Homo sapiens: one gene and its partners. The protein of the gene in region 1 purifies or fractionates together with the protein of each later gene. This does not show direct contact. Each region holds a gene or a part of one and is shown on either strand. Other genes may lie near its edges.

The links. Proteins that work in one complex are often made in the same cells at the same time.
Region 2: the proteins of MYCBPAP (region 1) and CEP97 purify together in Homo sapiens (affinity purification with mass spectrometry; one large-scale study listed by BioGRID and IntAct). This does not show direct contact.
Region 3: the proteins of MYCBPAP (region 1) and BEND3 purify together in Homo sapiens (co-immunoprecipitation; one large-scale study listed by IntAct). This does not show direct contact.
Region 4: the proteins of MYCBPAP (region 1) and TTC28 purify together in Homo sapiens (affinity purification with mass spectrometry; one large-scale study listed by BioGRID and IntAct). This does not show direct contact.

Annotation. Positions count from the first base shown.
Region 1 is NC_000017.11:50,518,439-50,521,938, forward strand, and holds part of MYCBPAP (MYCBP-associated protein), read left to right. Parts: intron 1-102; coding exon 103-286; intron 287-535; coding exon 536-651; intron 652-1,201; coding exon 1,202-1,349; intron 1,350-2,671; coding exon 2,672-2,787; intron 2,788-2,877; coding exon 2,878-2,993; intron 2,994-3,500. UniProt on the Homo sapiens protein: May play a role in spermatogenesis. May be involved in synaptic processes.
Region 2 is NC_000003.12:101,766,114-101,769,613, reverse strand, and holds part of CEP97 (centrosomal protein of 97 kDa), read right to left. Parts: 3' UTR 1-3,500. UniProt on the Homo sapiens protein: Acts as a key negative regulator of ciliogenesis in collaboration with CCP110 by capping the mother centriole thereby preventing cilia formation. Required for recruitment of CCP110 to the centrosome.
Region 3 is NC_000006.12:107,074,016-107,077,515, reverse strand, and holds part of BEND3 (BEN domain-containing protein 3), read left to right. Parts: intron 1-3,500. UniProt on the Homo sapiens protein: Transcriptional repressor which associates with the NoRC (nucleolar remodeling complex) complex and plays a key role in repressing rDNA transcription.
Region 4 is NC_000022.11:27,977,514-27,980,677, forward strand, and holds the end of TTC28 (tetratricopeptide repeat protein 28), read right to left. Parts: 3' UTR 501-3,164; downstream 1-500. UniProt on the Homo sapiens protein: During mitosis, may be involved in the condensation of spindle midzone microtubules, leading to the formation of midbody.

The sequences.
Region 1 (3,500 bases):
CGCAGTGGGATAACAGCACGGGTTTAGGCCTCGGGAAATGTGTGCTCAGCCCTGCCCAGAGCCTTCTTACTGCCCTCCACATACCTATGTTGTACTTTTCAGCTGGCTGAGCGGATACCTACCTCACCCTGTCTGATGACCCTCATCTCTGCTGAAGGAGAGTCAAAGCAAAAAGCCCCAAAAGAAGAGAAGAGACCTCCCTGGGCCCCACCTCCTCAGCACAACTTTCTGAAAAACTGGCAGCGTAACACAGCCCTGCGGAAGAAGCAGCAGGAAGCCCTCAGCGGTGAGCAGAGCAGACAGGGCTCCCGCCCGGCCTCCATCTGGCAGCAAGGCTCTGCTGGGTTGTTTGCTCTCCTCCAGAGCCTGGCCTTGGGCTGACCACATTTGTGCTTTCACTCCCAAGAGTGTCTCACTCTGAAGCTTCAGTGGATCCTGAAATCAGCCCTGTGAGGGAGGCTGCCCGATGCAGACTGCCAAGGCCCCTGTTTGTTCTGGTTCGGCAGAGTGGCGGCAATCTTGCCTCTCTCTCTAGAACACCTAAAGAAGCCAGTGAGTGAGCTGCTCATGCACACCGGGGAGACCTACAGACGGATCCAGGAGGAGCGGGAGCTCATTGACTGCACACTTCCAACCCGGCGTGATAGGAAAGTGAGGCCACCTGTCCTAAGTGCCCGGGGGCAGGGGGGTCCATGGAGGAGGGGGCGGGGGCAGGTGTCTGGACACAGGGATGCTGGTCTCAGGTGGCACAGCTGGGGAGAAAAAACCTATCCATTGCAAAACATCATTAGGCCCTCAAGGCCTTTACTAAATTATATGATTAGTCAGTAAAGTTATTCAGCCTGTGGTGACCACACAGGTAGCAAGTTATTAGAGTAGTCTTAGTGTTTGTCTCCTAGGAGCTTAGACTGAGTGGAGCCTACACCCTAAAGAGAGAGGTTGAAGAGTCCCCCACCTTTTTTTCTGGTAGACCAGTGCAGTACCTGTACCAACCCACACCATCTGGCTGGGGGCAGGTAAAGATGACAACAGGGTGTCCAGAAAACACGGCAGTGGATGCTTCTGTTATGCAATCACGGCAGCAATGAATTCCCCAGAGGAAGCATCTGTAGCCTGTGGTGGTGCTCTTGTCTTCCCACATCTCCACCAGCATCTGGCTGAGGTGTCCTGGTAATCTGACTCACCTTTCCTTCCTTGCCAGAGCTGGGAGAACAGTGGGTTCTGGAGTCGACTGGAATACTTGGGAGATGAGATGACAGGTCTGGTCATGACCAAGACAAAAACTCAGCGTGGCCTCATGGAGCCCATCACTCACATCAGGAAGCCCCACTCCATCCGGGTGGAGACAGGTGAGGCGCAGGGCTGTAAGCCAGCTAGCATCTTGTGCCTGGCCCGGAGGCAGGGTAGTGTGGAAGTGGCCAGCATAGCTCTACAGTGAAACAGGCCCAGGGCCTGTTTCTCTGTGGTTCTCTGGGGTCTTAGGCAAGTCCCAGAGTCTTCCTGAAGTCCGGCTCCCTCTTCTTTTTCTTCAGTAAAACGGTGAGAGAGCTAGGAAACTGGAGTGCAGCCATAGAGCTGCCGTCCAGTGTGGAGCCTTGAGCCACATGCCGCTGGTGAGCGCCTGGATCGTGGCTGCCCTGCCTTGAGAAGTGCTGTCACTGTCAACTGGACACTGGCTTTAGTGTGAAAACAATATATTTTATTAATCATTTTTATATTGATTACATGTCAAAATGACAATATTTTTGATATACTGAATTAAATAAACTATATTACTAAAATGAGGGCGGGCACAGTGGCTCATGCCTATAATCCCAGCACTTTGGGAGGCTACGGCGGATAGATCACTTGAGGTCAGAAGTTCAAAACCAGCCTGGCCAACATGGTGAAACCCTGTCTCTACTAAAAATGCAAAAATTAGCTGGGCATGGTGGTGCGCGCCTAGAATCCCAGCTACTTGGGAGGCTGAGGCAGGAGAATTGCTTGAATCTGGGAGGTGGAGGTTGCAGTGAGCCAAGATCATGCCATTGCACTCCAGCCTGGGCAACAAGAGCAAAACTCTGTCTTAAAATAAATAAATAAATAAATAAATAAACAAACAAACAAACTATATTACTAAAATGAATCCCACCTGTTTCTTTTTTCCTTTTTCAGTGTGGCATCTAGAAAACTTTCAGTGACACGTGTGGCTTGTGCTTGTGGTTTGCATTCTGTTTCTCTTAAGCAGCACTGCTTTAGAGCCTGCCAGGCTGCCTGGGTTCAGGTCCCAGCTGTGTCGTGTTAGTGAACCCCAGAGTGGTTGAACCCCTCTGGCCTGTAGTTTCCTCATCTGTAAAATATGCACAGGGTTGTGATAGGGCTAAATGAGATATGAAATGTATTAAGAGGTTCTGGCTCATTGTTAAGCACTCAATAAAAGGTAGCTGCTGTTATTATTTTTATTATAATCCAAAGATTTGGCTATTTGGAAGCTAATTTTTCAGGAGTCTTGTGTAGGGCTGCTGAGGAGGTATAGGACAGGAGAACGGGAGTCTAGCTGCCACAGGGAAGCTGTATTTTTAGTCCTTCCTAGAAATGGTGTTGGGATAGGCACTCTCAGAGCCCTTGAGAAGTGGGTGAGCAAGGGGACATGGCAGCAGCCTGTGCTGAGGGTCCTTGGACCTCATGCTAGGATTACCAGCCCAGAGGGACGCTTCATACCGCTACACCTGGGATCGGAGTCTGTTTCTGATCTACCGACGCAAGGAGCTGCAGAGAATCATGGAAGAGCTGGATTTCAGCCAGCAGGTTGGTATGGCCTCCATGCCCCAGTCAGAAGCCCCTTGGGGCGATGCCTGTCTTCAGTCAGCTCATCTTACCTTTCTCCATCTCTCGGAGGATATTGATGGCCTGGAGGTGGTGGGCAAAGGGTGGCCCTTCTCGGCTGTTACTGTGGAAGACTACACAGTGTTTGAAAGAAGTCAGGGAAGCTCCTCTGAAGACACAGCATACTTGTGAGTGCAGCCTGAACCCTGGGGAGAGAGGCTGAAGAGTTCTCCAGCACCTACCAGTATTAAAGAGCGGGCTTCCCTCCCTGAGATCAGGGTGCCTCTAGCCTAGCTTCTGTCCAGTGGTTGCCACCCACTCCTTGAACCCATTCCAGCACCTGTGCTGGCTTTCCTATTGCCATCTGCTCCTTTCCAATAACCAACTCCTAATGGGGATTTCCCAGACATTCCCTTGCTGGTCAACTGAGGGCTCTCTAGACCCTCCCACTGCTATGCATCTTGAATGCCTCTGGCATGGAGAGTCTGTGTATTTCTGTGTACTGTGAGTGGCTCTGGCAAGAGGGCTTAAAGAGTCTGTGTGTTTCTAAGAATCTCCCATCTACAGCAATGGGTCAGGAGGAAGCTGCGTGGGAGTGGAGTTGATCATACTCCATTGCAGGGTAGAGCTGGTTGTGTTTCTAGGCTTCCTGGTGACCGTTTCTGTGGGGTTCCACATGGCATGACTGTGGCAGC
Region 2 (3,500 bases), on another chromosome or scaffold:
CTGGGCACAGTGGCTCACACCTGTAATCTCAGCACTTTGCGAGGCCGAGGTGGGTGGATCACTTGAGGTCAGGAGTTCGAGACCAGCCTGGCCAACATGGTGAAACCCCATCTCTACTAAAAATACAAAAAAATTAGCCGAGCCTTGTGGTTGCACACCTGTAATCCCAGCTACACAGGAAGCTGAGGCAGGAGAATCGCTTGTACCCAGGAAGTGGAGGTTGCAGTGAGCTGAGACCAGCCTGGGTGACAACAGTGAAACTCTATCTCGAAAAAAAAAAAAAAAACACACACACAATGAAGTCTCTTCTTTCCTTTATGATGGAGAAATGATCATATTCATTCTATTTTTTTCTTTTTACCATCTTAACTCCCGAGGAAAAACGTTTTATATTTTTATTATCAATGTTATAAATCCAATTCTAAGACTTTGCACACAAAAAATACCAAGGGAGATAGTATAATATCTCAAGCTTGTATTTTCCTGAAATTATTGGGAAAAAGTAGAACTAGACTTAAGTAGATAACAGGAAAATACAGTATTATGGTGTTTGTATACAAAAAATAATCCAAAACAGATAAAAACACACGCTCAAGATGGCACCCACATTATTCCAGAATAAAGTTATTTACATATATACAAACGATTATATGACTAAATAAATGAACATTTTCCTAAAACATGCATATTGTGAAGCCTTTTATAATTAAACCTATAAAATCAAACTAAATTGCATATTATCAACTGTCATGATTACAGCTTTCTGCACACCAGGAGAGTTAACATTTTAACATCTGTTCTACAAAACTGAAGATAAAATGTCATCAAACTCAGCATTTCTCTAGAAAATTTTATATACCTCAGCAACCTGTCATACTGCCTGTCGTCAAATAAATGGACTCTAAAATGTACTTATTCTTTTCAGAAAAAAATTTTTTTTGTAGAGAGGGGGGTCTTGCTATGTTGTCCAGGCTGGTCTTGAACTCCTGGCCTCAAGTGATCCTCTGGCCTCAGCCTCCCAAAGCACTGGGATTACAGTTGTCAACCACCACGCCAGGTCTCTTTTCTAAAACTTTAATTTCCACTATTGCTCTTTTGAAACCATTTTAATCAAGTCACATTTCTTAGAAAAAATTCACTCAGGGTTCTGAAGGAATTAGTTATTTTCTACAAGCAACTCTGTCATGAGTGATAGAGTTGTAGCTCTCTTAGAAGTTTTTTTCCTCTTTCAAAGAGAATGAGAAATATGCAGAGATTTCCTTACTGACTCACTAAATGTAAAGATTAAGAGGACATAATAAAATTTTGGACTACAGTAGCATATAGGTTTTCAGTTTATTTACTACTAACTAGCTATAACTTAGACAAGTCATTTAACATGCTGTGCTTTAGTTTCATCTTTGAAACAAAGAGATTCGAACAGAAATCTCTTAAGCTTCCTTCCAACTCTTACATGGTATGATTCTGTGCTTCTGCAGGAATTCTTAATTGATAAACTGAATCTTCCATAAATCAAGAGAACTGATGTGTACTAAAATAGCACAGCTGAACTAAACCTTTCCTTGTTAGGAAAAAAACACAAAGACCATGTTCAAAGCTTAACTTTCCAAACCTTACTAGACCCATTCCCTCTTCAGCCAACCAAAGAATAGCCCATAGAGTTAAAACCAAATATTTTAATTATATAAATTACTTTTAAAGTATAATGTAAACCCATTAAAATATATTAACTCTATGCCAGTTTTCCTACACTCTAATTTACAGTATTTTCATTTTATCTACATTCAAGATAATATGTACAGTTAAGGAAGGGGCTATTTAATATTCTTGCACTTCTAAACACTAGTAAAAGTTAAATAAAACACAGACGAAGAACAGAATATTAACAATTATCATATTGTGCCAAATTTTTAATGAAAGTATGCTGAGTACTATTTGTGGGCTAAAGAAACAAGGCAAAGGTAAAAAAGGAAATCCTGCTAACAAGTGCTGATGATCAAATGAATTTAGTTGTGTTTTTCCATAACTTAAAAAAGACAGGAGGGAGAGGATTTTAGCAGAAATCTATTTAGGTAATACTGAATCATGACATTCCAGCAGCTTTTATGAAAAACTAATGTATAAAGTAGTATTTTGGTACTAGTGCAGTGGAAATTGGTTTTTCTTTGTCTAACTATGGACAGCAAGTGAGGCACTTAACTTTAAAATAGAAAAATAGGGTATATTTAAGAAGACATTCAAAATCATTCAGAAAAGATAATTAGCACTATTGAAAAAAAGTTAGAAATTCCATTTTTATTTAACATGCATTCAATGTTACACATGTTTCACTAAGGAAAATCCTTCTGAAAGTAAGATTACTCTTTTATTTATAAGAAACAGAAAATATTTCCTTTTCAAGGGATTCTGGATTTCTAAGAATAAAATCCAAGTCGTCTCAACCTGAGTGCTACGTATTTATAAACTGAGAAAAATACGTCTTACCATACAGGAAAAATGTTATGACTATCAACAAATACCATGAGCTGGGAGCAGTGGCTCTTGCTTATAATCCCAGATACTCGGGAGGCTGAAGTGGGAGATCACTTGAGCCAGGAGTTCGAGGTTATAGTGAACTATGATCATGGCACCGCACCAACAGAGCCAGCCTCCATCTCTTTAAAAAACAATAACAACAAATGCCACGTACCATGTGATCCTCAACTTTATCCTTGAAGGATCAGATGCTTTTATTTTACATAACTTCAGAGAAGGGCACCTAATGACTACAACAGAATAATAGATATTTAGCACCTAAATTTAGAGATGCTTAAGTATTGCCATAGTTTTAAATAGCTGTATGTCTGTAAGTTGAGGGAAACCAAATACATGTTGTTAAACGATATTATCCTTAATTACAAATGCATCTACCTACAATATTCAAACACAATCTTATTTCTCCCTGAAGTTGCAGACATATATATATATATATATATCCCTTTTAACAAGTAAAGTGAGGTTTATTATTTCTTCACCATCATTAAATTGTCTTCCAAATGTGGAACTTTTTCAGGTTAGACAAAAAGTAGTTCCTAAAAAGTCATTCATATTCGACCAGTAGTATTACTTTAAATGTTCTTCACTATGGGACAGAGGTCAAAATTGAAGTGAATGGCCACGGACCTTCTGCTGAAATATATAAGTAAAAATAAGCAGGAACAGAGGAGATGAACATACATTAATTTCTGACAACATGTTGGCACAAAAATGCTTACCTATAGGGTGAAAAAGCACTTAATGAGAGGATAAATATTTGCCATGAGAGTATTTCAAGTGAATGGAGACTAGTGTTTCCTTTCTTCATATCTAAGTGAAATATTCTTGTGTTGCCTAAGTAAACTTGACTTTAATCCTGGATAGAACACTTTACTTCATATGTTAAAACTGATGCATGACATTAACTGAAGTTTTCCATGAGACAATTTAATCATCCCCATTGAGAAATCTTATAATCCTACCTT
Region 3 (3,500 bases), on another chromosome or scaffold:
GGATGACCCACAGAGTAAGAGCCGTGAGAGCAGAGACTGTGTCTGGCTTGATCCTGGGAGGTCACCGTATTGATGCTGAACTTAGTGAGGGGTACCACTGGGTTGCCTAAGGAGGGGTGAACCGGCTCAGGTCAGAAACAGAGCAGGTCAGAACTCCCCTGCTGATCAGTAGTGGGGTCACGCCTGTGAACATAGGCAACTTAGTGCAGCCCTGTCTCTGATTTAATTTAAAAAAAAATTGTTTTGGCCAGATGTGGTGGCTCACACTTGTAATTCCAACACTTTGGGAAGCCAAGGTGGGCCGATTACTGGAGCTCAAGAGTTCGAGGCCAGCCTGGACAACATGGTGAGCACATTTAAAATAGGATTTTGTGCAGAAAGAGATCATTAGAAATTCATATACTGTGCAACAAGAGTACATGTTCTAGAGGGAGACCTGCCCTAATTAATACCCAGGATAGAAAAATAAGTACAGGGTCTCTACTAAAAATACAAAAAAAATTAGCTGACCATGGTGGTGTGTGCCTGTGGTCCCAACTACTTGGGAGGCTGTGGTGGGAGGATAACTTGAGCCTGGGGAGGGTGGGGAGTGATGGCGAAGGTTGCAGTGAGCCAAGATCACATCACTGCACTCCAGCCTGGGCAACAGAGTGAGATCCTGTCTCAAAAAAAAATTTGATGATGATGATGAAAATAATAATGTTGAAAATGAAAGTGGTATAAGCATCATTCATGCGACTGTGATTCCAGGAGGGAGATGCCAGCCCAACTGACCACTGTTTCACATGGCCTCTCTGCTTCCCCAAGCCATGCTGCTTTCTGAGTGTTCCAGCGTGCTGACTCTCAGGGCACTTTTGAGCCACTCATTCATTGAACTAAATTCAGTGACCACTCTTGGATTTGGGGTTGCGATGAAGACGTCTAGCACTTGGAGCATCTCCAGGGTGTCCCACTCCCTGGGATGTCACTGGGCATGGACACCTGGAGTCTCCCTAAATAGTCTATTTACCCCTCACTTGTAACCCAACATCAGCTTCTTTTTGTTCAGTCAGATTCTCCAGCTGAGAGATTTGGGCATTCTCTCTGGGTTCTACGGGTGCTGGTGGCTGAATGAAACGCCCTGATCAAGATCCGGGCTAGACGCTGGCATTGCAGAGCCTGAGCTGTACAGCAGAGTTCCCATATGGTTGGAAGACGAGCCTCAGAGAATTGGGAATGTGTCAGCCAGTCCTACCCAGTGCCAAGTAGCACAGATTTAAAGATTTCTTGATACTCCTAGACAGCTGAGCCGAGATTTTATCATCAGCCACAAACGCAGCCAGCCCATTGCCGCCTTGGCAGCATTTGTGGAATTAATTGGAGCACTGAGCTGACAGGACACCAGTGTGGGAGTATCTAAGAAGTTTCTCTTCAGTGCTTGTGTTGTGTTCTGTGTTGAATTGTGTACCCAAGGTTTCTGGGAGTGAATATTGCCCTCTACTGGGACACTAACATTTTTAATTCAAGCAATCTAGCCAAAAATGTTTCTGTTGACGGCAGTGTTTCTAACATGCTTGGTGGAAATGGAAATATTTGTATTAATGAGGCTGAATATTGAGAGTTATGGGGGGTTTCCCAGTTTCAATGTACTCTTGCCTCCCACCTGCTGTAGGAATGTGAGGGAGTCAAACCTTGTGTGTGTTGTTGGTATTCAAATAATTCACCAGAAACTTTTCCCTGTACTCATTTCTCCCCTGGGCAAGTCTCCCTCTAGAACATGTACTCTTGTTGCATGCTATATACGTTTCTGATGATCTCTTTCTTAGGAAATTCTATTTTAAATGTGCTAATGGAACCTTATTTTAAAGCAAAGTCTCCTTTTCTAAAATCACTCCTAATATAGTTATGATTTGTAATTGTTAGTACTCCAAACCCAAATTTCTCTCTATTGGTAAACCTTATAGTAATCTTATAGTCCATGGGACCTCTAAAATTATTTTAGTGTAATAGAACTAAATGGTGAATAAATTGCCAAAAATTTTACTTTACATTCTACAGGAATTAGCAAGTAAGGCACTTTGTATTTGTTAGGGCAATGGTTTTCCACAGTGACCCACAGTTATAAATCACCTTATAGAGCAATACAACTTACCTGTATGAATTTGTAAATAAGTATTTAGACATACACATAGTAATGAAACAAAACTCTTAACTTGATTTACTTTGTGCAGTACACTTTGATATTTTCTATTCTTTTTGCTTTCTTATTTCCTCCTTCCCTCCCTCTTTATTTATTTATTTATTTATTTTTGAGACACAGTCTCACTCTGTCGCCTAAGCTATGGTACAGTGGTGCAGTCACAGCTCACTGCAACCTCCACCTCCAAGACTCAAGTGATCCTCCCACCTAAGCCTCCCTAGTGGCTAATCCTTCCCTCTTCTTTTTTTTTTTTGAGACGCTCTGTTGCCCAGGCTGGAGTGCAGTGGCACTCACTGCCACCTCCGCCTCCCGGGTTCAAGTGATTCTCCTGCCTTAGCCTCCTGAGTAGCTGGGACTACAGGCGTGTGCTACCACTCCCAGCTAATTTTTTGTATTTTTAGTAGAGATGGAGTTTCACTGCGTTAGCCAGGATGGTCTCAATCTCCTGACCTCGTGATCCACTCACCTCAGCCTCCCAAAGTGCTGGGATTATAGGCATGAGCCACCGTGCCCGGCTCCTCCCTCTTCACGATCCACCAAAATCAGTTATCATCTACTATCCCACAATTTGAAACACTGCATTAGGGGTAAAGGTTTTCAGCTATCTCCACCCCTTCCTTTCTGGTGTGTGTATATGTTTTCTTTTCTTTCTTTTTTAAAGAAATAATGCCAGATAACAGAACAGAAGAAACATAAAGGGCTTAAATTCCCAGCCTTTAGGACAAACAGACCTCTAAGAAGTGCCTTCCATGAGTGACTTACCCTGAGGCACTGTGGGAAAGTCCTTCTCAGTGTACTTGAGAGTGTCATTACAACTCCCCTAATAAAAGTCCCCTACAGAACTACCTCTGCCATGGCTTGGGAATAGCATTACGTAATAATAAATCATATTGTAATAATAAATTTTTATGTATTTATTTTTGAGACAGAGTCTCACTCTGTTGCCCAGGCCAGAGTGCAGTGGCACGATCTTGGCTCACTGCAACCTCCGCCTCCCAGGTTCAAGCAGTTCTCCTGCCTCAGCCTCCCGAGTAGCTGGGATTACAAGCACGCGCCACCACACCCAACTAATTTTGTATTTTTAGTAGAGATGGGGTTTCACCGTGTTGGCCAGGCTAGTTTCGAACTCCTGACCTCAAGTGATCCACCCGCCTCGGCCTCCCAAAGTGCTGGGATTACAGGCATGAGCCACCGCACCCGGCCATAAATATTTATTAAGCACTTAGTGTGATTCAGATAGACTCAGTGCTGTGTGTGCACTGTCTCCTTAAATCCTCACAACCACCCTGTGGGACAGGTAGCATGATTTACCCTGAGTAAA
Region 4 (3,164 bases), on another chromosome or scaffold:
ATATTATTGTCTAGTATTTTTTGTTAGCCGAATGAAACATTACTCTTTTTATAAAGGCAATATTTGTGTTCATTTATGCATATTTACCCAATTCTTTACTATTCCTTCATGCTTCTCACACTTTTGCATATAGAATTATCTTCCTTCTTTCTGAAATACTACCTTGGAAGTTTTGTTAGATGATATAGGGATCTGGTGGTGATGAACTCTGTTTCTGTTTGTCGAAATACGTATTCAACTGTCGAACTTTCTGGCCCTCCAACTATGAGTAGCGTCTAAATTACCCCCCCACCGACAGTGCCCCCAGACCAGAGACGTGCGGGACAGCTCTGCTGCATGCATGGTCGTGCTCTCTGCTTGGCGGATGTGAGGCTATGGTGTAGAGGTGGGGTTAAAACTAGAGAGATACGTGCTCAGTAATGACACACGGCCCACTCCATGTACTGCAAAGAAACCTAGACAGTGTGGAAAGAGTAGAGAAAGTGATCCAGATACAGCACTTAAAACTGAGGGAACTCATGCTTTAATAGACACTGAAAATCACAAAGGAGGAAGGCCAAGTGCCTTAGCAATCTCAATAAAAATATGAAGTTCTTTTTACATGGTAAATTTCATAATATAAAAAGTTTAATGTCTGGAAATGGTGTAATTTACAAAAAAAGTCCACGTAGGCCAAAGATGGCTAACACTGCATATAAGGAACGTGAATGCCAGTGGGAAGGTGTCTGAGGAGGGGCAGGGCCACAGGTGTCCTGACAGGGAACATCTTTGAAGGATCTGGCACAAACAAGGGCCCAGTTCACAAACCACAGGTACACTCATTTTAGATAGAACAGCAGAATAGGTGATGAAAATTATACAGTTTTCACTTGTTGCCTACTTACTGAAAGCAAACCAGATTATTGCATGGCATTTTTCCAGCCTGAACTGAAATTATCAAGGCTACAGTTCTTCTTGTGGGTCTGCAAATGTGTGTGGCTGGGAGGTGGCAGAATCGGCACGGGCCAGGGACCGGCTGCAGTGATCATATGCTGGAGCGTCACTGGGACAGAGAGAGCAGGATGAGGACAGCGTGGGTGACACCTTTGTCTCCTGCTAAAACCCAGCAAGTTTCAGTGTGGACCGTGAATTTTTAAAAAATGGAATGGAGGTGAAAACTTTCATTTTGTGTTGCACATCAGTGTGGATCAAAATGTAAGTTTTAGTAGCAATTTTTCTCTTGATATTTTGACTTAATTAAAAAAATCAAATTAGTTGAGTCATTTACTGGAGAGAATTAAGAAAGCTTTGACTCCCTTGCTCTGTGGTCCTGCTGAGGTTTCTAAGAGAGGGGAGTTGTACGGCTTATAGTCATTGTATTTACATCTGATGGAGTAGCAGAGGGTGGGGCATGCCAGTTTCCTGAGCTAAAAGGAAATATATGCAATGCTTTCTGCAAATGGTAAGGAAAAAATTGTTTTGTAAATATTACATCCATGGACTCCTCCCAAGTGGGACAAAGAGCCAAGGGCTATGCAGGAGGCATTTGCTTCCATCCACGTGGCCCTCACATACCCTGGGCTCCCCGGACGCCAGTCAGTCTATCCACTACCTGACTTGCTTTTCCTAGACTGGAGAAACAAAACGTTATTCCATTTTCTGTCATCCATACCAGGAGTCAGCAAACTTCTTAAAAGGCCAGGTATTGGCTGGGCGCAGTGGCTCACCTGTAATCCCAGCAGTTTGGGAGGCCAAGGCGGGCGGATCCCCTGAGGTCAGGAGTTCGAGACCAGCCTGGCCAACATGGTGAAACCCCATCTCTATTAAAAATACAAAAATTAGCAAGGCATGGTAGTGGGTGCCTGTAGTCCCAGCTACTTAGAGGCTGAGGCAGGGAGAATTGCTTGAACCCAGGAGGAAGAGGTTGCAGTGAGCCAAAATCGCACCAGTGCACTCTATCCTGGGTGACAGAGCGAGACTCTGTCTCAAAAAAAAAAAAAAAGGCCAGGTATTGAATATTTTATGTGGTGTGGGCCAAAGGCAAAATCAAAAATATGATGTAATTACTTATATAACCCTTTAAAAAGGTAACTTAGCTCATGGCTGTGAAAAACCAGACCGCTGACCAGTCTTAGCCTGTGGGTCATAGTTGCCAACCCCTGATCTACACAAAGAAATCTTGGTGAATTATACAATTTCCTTTAATTCTAAGTGCATACTTTTTCCAGTGTAGCCTGAAACATTCACTGTGATTTTATGATTTTACATCCATTTTACTCATACAAGAACACCAAGACTGACATACACGTAAAGTGGCGGTGACTTTACAGTGGCCTCTAGACTGTTCTATCATTTTATCACTTTTGTTTTCCCTTCCTTGAAACTTATATTTAAGACAGAATAAAACCACATAAACCATTGGCTCTTCAGTATGAAACCTAAAACAACGATGTACATGGGACTAAAACCAGGTTAGAGTCCATGAGTAACTCCTAGCTGGCTCAATAACCACAGGAAGCGGCAGGGTGGTGGGGGTGTTTGCTAGAGAGGGGCAAATAGGGCCGCAGCCTTCCCCTCACAGAAAGAGAGCACAGACCCCAGAGCTTTACTCCAGGGATCCTTGGCACTTGGGAAAGAAGGAGGCTGAGAGATTTGCTAAGAGAGGGACAGCCTAACCATCTGCATATGGATTTAGAAACTTGAGGTTTACTTTTCATTGTTAAGAACCTGATTTTGCTATCTAATGCACAGTGCTATAAATTTGGTCTTCACTTGCTACACTGGTACTTTTATTACCATTTTTTCCCCTACTAACATAAAGAAACCCTCATAATTGCTGGCTTCTTTATAAAGTACTTCGCTTTCAGTGTTGGGATCAGGGCTAGAATAAGACATGCTTATTGTTGGCTTTTGTCAACATGGCTGTTGGTTAAATTAAAAACCCCTAGGATGGAGCTCAGGAGAACACAGATTGGATAAATATTATCCTTTCTTCTTTTCAGAGGAGTACACTGAGGAACAGGTGAGATTGTCAGTGTATGCGCAGAAGCTGAGATCCCACCCATGGTTAAAACCCCCACCTGGGGATCCTGAGGTCAGTGCCCCCTGCCAGGCCCCTCAGGTCTGCTCCATGTGCTGCTGGTGGCCCAGGCCAGGTGGCCGCCCACCTTCATGAGGAACCCTGT